Homo sapiens: one gene and its partner. The protein of the gene in region 1 interacts with the protein of each later gene in a pairwise test. Each region holds a gene or a part of one and is shown on either strand. Other genes may lie near its edges.

Region 1 (3,242 bases):
TCTTGCAATGAAATGCCCAAATCTTAAGTCAACATTCATTGAGTTTTGACAAATGAATAACCTTTAGTTTAGTCCAATGTATCAATCTTTTAAATGGTTATTGCTTTCTGGCCCTGTCTTAAAATTTTTGCTTAGCCCCTGAGTCATGAAGATATTCTCCTGTTCTTCTCTACTGAAATTTATGCTGTTAGCATCATGGTTTGTGACCCTTCTTGAATTAGTATTTGATTATGGTGTGACATAGGAGTTGAATTTCATTTTTCCCCCATGTAATATCTAGTTATTCCTGGACCTTATGTTGAAAAGACTTGCTTTTCCTCATTGGCTTGCTTTGGTGTCTGTACTGATAATCAAATAACCATAAAAATATTCTGTTCTGGGCTCTCTGCTCTGTTCCATTGATCTATTTGTTGATCCTTACCTAGTACCACTCTGTTTTATCTTTAGTCTTGAAGTCAGATTTGAAATCAGTTTTATGTCCTCCAACTCAGTTCTTTTTCCAAGATTGCTTTGGATATCCTAGGTCCTTTGCATTTTTATATGCATTTTAGAATCAGCTTGTCAGTTTCTACATGGGTGTGACTTTTTAGTATATTATTTTGGGTTCATTAAATCTCATTTTCTTCCATACATTTATAATGACATTTGAGGTTTGATTGGAAGGTTTTCATATTGACTTTTAACTAGGGCTTTCTTGGGACAAACAGAATATTCTACTATATTCCCAAACTAGATTACCATCTTATGATTCAAACTTTCCATATATTTAACCCAGATATATATTTTCAGAAAAAGTAATTGGAAAAGTTATGTGATCAGTCAAGTACTGTTTTCCTAAAATGTGGTATTGAAAATCTCCTGGAATTTTTAATAATTCATGTTGTTTTATGTGAAAAGAATGTCATCTTTTTATTATATTATCTGTACATTTGCTGTTCATCTAAAATGTAGATAATATCACCCCAGGCTAAAAAGGATGAGAAAGAATTTAAACTGATTCTTATAACTTTTTCTTTTTTTTAGGGCGTCATCGTTGTATTGGGGAAAATTTTGCCTATGTTCAAATTAAGACAATTTGGTCCACTATGCTTCGTTTATATGAATTTGATCTCATTGATGGATACTTTCCCACTGTGAATTATACAACTATGATTCACACCCCTGAAAACCCAGTTATCCGTTACAAACGAAGATCAAAATGAAAAAGGTTGCAAGGAACGAATATATGTGATTATCACTGTAAGCCACAAAGGCATTCGAAGAGAATGAAGTGTACAAAACAACTCTTGTAGTTTACTGTTTTTTTAAGTGTGTAATTCTAAAAGCCAGTTTATGATTTAGGATTTTGTTAACTGAATGGTTCTATCAAATATAATAGCATTTGAAACATTTTCTAATAGTTATGATACTTATACATGTGCTTTCAGGAAGTTCCTTGGTGAAACAATTGTTGAGGGGGGATCTAGGTAATTGGCAGATTCTAAATAATATAATTTCCAGATAGTAATTTTAAGAGTACTCATCGCTCTTGCCAAATAAGTTCAGGGTATTCAAATCTTGGACTAGTCCTGCAAGGTATAAAGAATAAAAATCCCAGTGAGATACTTGGAAACCACAGTTTATTATTATTTATCTGGGCAATTATTGTGTGTGTGAGGATGGAAGGGTAGGGAATAATCGAACATCTAAAGCCTTGAATAAGAGAATACTAATTGTTTTGGTATGATGATACTCAGAAATGGAGATATTATAGGAAAAAGAAATCCTTTGGAATTTTAACTAAAATCACTGCATATGGGAAATTAAGAGATCCAGGACCATATTTGATAAGAGTTCCTAAAAATAATGTAATTATTAATGCTAAAGACTGCTCATGTATCTTGATCTAATTACTAAATAATTACATATTTATTTACCTGATAAATATGTATCTAGTTCTACAAGGTCACATTTATGTGGAAGTCCAAAGTCAAGTCCTTAGGGGATAATTTTGTTTTGGCTCAGTTGTTCCCTGCTTCCTTTTTTTTTTTTTTTTTTTGAGATGGAGTCTCGCTCTGTTGCCCAGGCTGGAGTGCAGTGGTGCGATCTCAGCTCACTGCATCCTCTGCCTCCCGGGTTCAAGCAATTCTCTGCCTCAGCCTCCCAAGTAGTTGGGATTACAGGCACCTGCCACCATGCCTGGCTAATTTTTTGTATTTTTAGTAGAGACGGGGGTTTCACTATGTTGGCTAGGCTGGTCTTGAACTCCTGACCTCGTGATCCACCCGCCTTGGCCTCCCAAAGTGCTGGGATTACAGGCATGAGCCACCGCACCTGGCCTTCCCTGCTTCCTCTCTAGAATCCAATTAGGGATGTTTGTTACTACTCATATTGATTAAAACAGTTAACAAACTTTTTTCTTTTTAAAATGTGAGATCAGTGAACTCTGGTTTTAAGATAATCTGAAACAAGGTCCTTGGGAGTAATAAAATTGGTCACATTCTGTAAAGCACATTCTGTTTAGGAATCAACTTATCTCAAATTGTAACTCGGGGCCTAACTATATGAGATGGCTGAAAAAATACCACATCGTCTGTTTTCACTAGGTGATGCCAAAATATTTTGCTTTATGTATATTACAGTTCTTTTTAAAACACTGGAAGACTCATGTTAAACTCTAATTGTGAAGGCAGAATCTCTGCTAATTTTTCAGATTAAAATTCTCTTTGAAAAAATACAGTCTGTATTCATGAATTGTAAAATATGTGCTTCAGTGAGCAGAGTTAGGGAATCCAGGAACTTGGGTGGGGAAAAATTACATCTTTATTTGCACTAATAATTTCTAACTGCAATTTAGTATTTATTTCAATTATGAATTTGGGCAGCATTTTATTAGCAGTATCCATGATTTTGTCAATAGAAATCTCAGATATTTTCATATTACAGATGTTACAGATTTCTTGAAGTATCTAGTTACGACCCCGAGATAAGGCTAGTCTAATGTTTAGTGAATAGTTTTAGACTTCTTAACAGATTTCATTTTTAATCACAGACTAATTAATTATTGAGATGCATAAACAAGTGTGATTGCAGAGGCCTACTATCATAAGGAGGCGTGGTGGTCAAACAATGGCACTGAACTCAGCTTGATCAGATCATTTGTCCATCTGTTTTTTTCTCCACTGTCTCTTAGAGCAGAATAGCCTTGAATGGCAAGCCATGCTAGCTGAAAAAGGTTTTTACCCACAACCTGCCCCTTCAAC
Region 2 (3,829 bases), on another chromosome or scaffold:
CAAAATTATTGGCATAGAATTGTATTATCTTTTTAATTAAAGCCTTAAAAAATCTGTGGTCCAGTCTCCACTTTGGTAATATTTTTTTTTGAAAACTTGATAGGGGTTTGTAAACTGTATTAATCTTTTGAAAGAATTGATTTTTGAGTTTGTTGATATTCTCTATTGTAATCTACTTTATATTGTGGATTTTGTGCTTATTTTTATTCTTTCTTTTCTTCTTACTTTCAGCTTCACTTGCTCTTCTTTTTCCAGCTTCCTAAGGTGGGAGCCTAAATCATTTTTCTAACATAAGCATTTAACACTATTAATTTTCCTCTAAATACTGCTTTTGTTGCAGCTCACAGAATCTGATAAGTGTGTTTCCATTGTCACTCAGTTCGGCATATTTTTCAATGTCTTTTTGCATGGGTTATTTAGAAGTATGTTTAATTTCCAAATATTTGGAGATTCTTGTTACTAGTTTGTAATTTAATAATATGTGGACACTGACCACAGTATATTCTCTGTATAATTCAGTTTTTAAAATATTTACTGTTACTTGTTTTATGACCCAGCATCTGGTTTATTTTGATGACCTTTCCATACGCAGTTGTTAATGAAGAGTCTGACTCTTGCTAAAATCCTATGTGTGGGTTCTCAGGCTCCACCAGGTCATTCCTGGCAGGCCACACAGGGGAAAGGTGGCCTCCCCGCAGCAGACTTGGTGCACTTCTAGTGCATTACAGTCTCTAAAGGGAGTTGCAGTGCAGGACTCAGGCCTCCCAGACCAGCCATGCTGTTATGCGTGTTTACATTCCTAACCCAGGCACCTCCATTAGGAGGCCTCTTTATCAGGTGCCTCTGCCAAGAGGACATCCTAATCTAGGGGAGAGGGGAAACTTTGAAGACACTTTCTTTCCCCACTCTTAGTATCCGGTAGTTTTAATTTTTTTCTTTATTTCTTTTTTCTTTCTTCTCTTTTCTTTTTTTTTAACATATTTTTGGAGACAGGATATTGCTCTGTCGCCCAGACTGGAGTGTAGTGGCATGATCATAGCTCATTGCAGCCTTGAACTCCTGGACAGTTCAAGCAATCCTCCTGCCTCAGCCTCCCAAGTAGCTAGGACTACAGGTTTGCATCACAATGCCTGGCTGATGTTTTATTATTATTATTATTATTATTATTATTATTATTATTATTATTTTGTAGAGACAGATTCTTGCTATGTTGCCCAGGCTGGTCTCAAACTTCTGGCCTCAAGTAATCTTCCTGCCTCGGCCTCCCCAAGTGCTGGGGTTGCTTACAGGCATGAGCCACCGTGCCCAGCCAGGCCTCACTACTTTTTCACTCTTAGCCCTTCCCTTGTCTTCTTGTCCCCTGGTCCCAGTCCATAAAATGAATGATAGGAGCTTTTTGTTCTGCATTCCCTTAGCAGTGAGATGACTCACTTCTGCACTGATCCACATTTGCACTGATCTGCCTGACCCTCTCTGACCCTCTCCAGGTGCTATTTCATGGTTGGGGTTGGGGGAGTGAAACAGTGGAGTACTCAGCGCTTTCTCTGGGTTAGCCTCTTAAATTAAGTGACTACTAAGTGATTAAAGGCTGGTTGTGTTAATCACTTATTCCAACACCTTGCAGCTCAGTTCTCTTCAGCCCAGCTTGGCTTTTGGTAAGTGGGTGTGGTATTCTATTAATATATATTTATCATCTTGGCCAAGGTACTTGATATAGTGGTATGTAAATCCTCTATATTGTTATCGATTTTATTGTCTACTTGTTCTGTCAGTTACTGAGCAAAAGATTTTACAATTCCCAACTCTGTGGGTTTGTCTCTTTCTTCCTTTAGTACTGTCAATTTTTGCTTCACACATTTTGAAGCTTTGTTGTTAAATCTCTACATTTGGATTGCTGTCTTCTTGATGAGTTGATCCTCCTTATTGCTAGTATTTCTCTTTATCTTGAAGTCTATTTTGTCTTATACTAATATAGGCATACAAGCTTTCTTGTGATTAGAGTTTGATGGTGTATCTTCCCATTTTACTTTTAGCCCATCTTTATATTTAAAATGTGCTTCTTGTAAAGAGCATGTAGTTGGAACATGCATTTTTATCTTGTCTTGTTACCATTTTTTTATTGGAATGGTTGAACTATTATTAATACAATTTAGTTTAAGCTCTGCCATAGATGGGAGCATCCATATGTGGCTCTTAAGAAGAGCTTAGGGCCACATGTGGTGGCTTATACCTATAATCCCATCACTTTGGGAGGCTGAGGCAGGAGGATTGCTTGAGGCCAGGAGTTCAAGACCAGCCTGGGCAATGTAGCAAAACCTCATCCCAACAAAAAAAGTAAAAATTAGGTGAGTATGATGGCACATGCCTGCAGTCCTAGCTACTTCGAAGGCTGAGGAGGGAGGATTACTTGAGCCTAGGAGTTCAAGGTTACAGTAAGCTATGATCATACCACTGCACTCCAGCTTGGTTGAGAGTGAGACCCTGTCTCAAAAAAAAAAATAAATAAATAAATAAATAAATAAATAAATAAATAAATAAATAAAAATTAAGAGCTTGGCACTTTTTTGGAGTTTAGGTCTTTTAAATTTGTGCCCTCAGCTCTCTGATGAATTTAAAAGAAATTATGACTTTTCATCTTATCTGAATTATTTTTAGGTTGTTAGGATGGGCCCAAGTATCTCTTGCAGAAATCTATATGTTGAAGAAGTCAAATTTTCAGTTAAAAATGTATTGAGCACCTGTATCAATGATTCTCTGCAGGGGCAGTTATTCTCCCTAGAGGGTGTTTTGGAAATATATCTAGGTACTGTTGAATGTTAAAGTAAGTGGGTTGAGGGTAAAGACTTCTAGCTTTTTTGTTTGTTTGTTTGAGACAGAGTCTCACTCTGTCGCCCAGGCTGGAGTGCAGTGGCGCGATCTCGGCTCGCTGCAAGCTCCGCCTCCCGGGTTCACACCATTCTCCTGCCTCAGCCTCCTGAGTAGCTGGGACTACAGGCGCTCGCCACCACACCCGGCTAATTTTTTTTATTTTTAGTAGAGACGGGGTTTCACCATGTTAGCCAGGATGGTCTAGATCTCCTGACCTCGTGATCCGCCCGCTTCGGCCTCCCAAAGTGCTGGGATTACAGGCGTGAGCCACTGCACCCGGCCGATTTCTAGCTTTTGAAGGAGTGAGGTCTCGGATCTAGGTTAGAGATTACCCAACTTTTTCTGTAAAGGGCTAGACATTTCATATGGCTTTGCGGGCCACATGGTCTCTGCTGCAACTCTTCAGCTCTGCTGCTGTAGTGTGAAAGTAGCCAAAGGCACTATATAACTGAATGAGTATGGACGTATTCCAATAAAACCTTATTTACAAAATTAGTTGGTAGACAGTAGTTTGCCAAGTTATGATTTAGTTGTCCATCAGTGCATAACAAAAAATTGTCTGTGATTTGCAAAATTGAGAACCATACCTGGAAAAAATGTGTTTATGATTTTCCAGGTCTGGAATCTCTTACATAATGCATTTTGTGCATGACTTTTTCAATTTGCTGAATTTATCTACTTTCCTATTATTGGATGGTTTTACTATTAGCTGTATCTTCCAGGAATGCAACCATGATTTGATTGAGAAAAAGGCTCTACTTCGCTTAAGAAATTTACTGAGTTTTTTTTAACCATTTCAAAAAGTTATAGTATTGATGGCAATGCTAATTGTGTTATTTGTCTTGCCTATAGCAAATATGTATAGAAACCTCCATTTATAGATAATGCATTTCTATTTATTCTATACGTACACATGAACACACATATATTTAGCCTTTATTTCAAAATGTCAAATATAAAA

What was found.
Region 2: the proteins of CYP51A1 (region 1) and ZNF420 interact in a two-hybrid assay, tested with the Homo sapiens proteins (one large-scale study listed by BioGRID and IntAct).

The regions. Positions count from the first base shown.
Region 1 is NC_000007.14:92,111,625-92,114,866, reverse strand, and holds the end of CYP51A1 (lanosterol 14-alpha demethylase), read left to right. Parts: intron 1-1,023; coding exon 1,024-1,202; 3' UTR 1,203-2,714; downstream 2,715-3,242. UniProt on the Homo sapiens protein: Sterol 14alpha-demethylase that plays a critical role in the cholesterol biosynthesis pathway, being cholesterol the major sterol component in mammalian membranes as well as a precursor for bile acid and steroid hormone synthesis.
Region 2 is NC_000019.10:37,084,795-37,088,623, forward strand, and holds part of ZNF420 (zinc finger protein 420), read left to right. Parts: intron 1-231; exon of another isoform or gene 232-264; intron 265-3,829. UniProt on the Homo sapiens protein: May be involved in transcriptional regulation.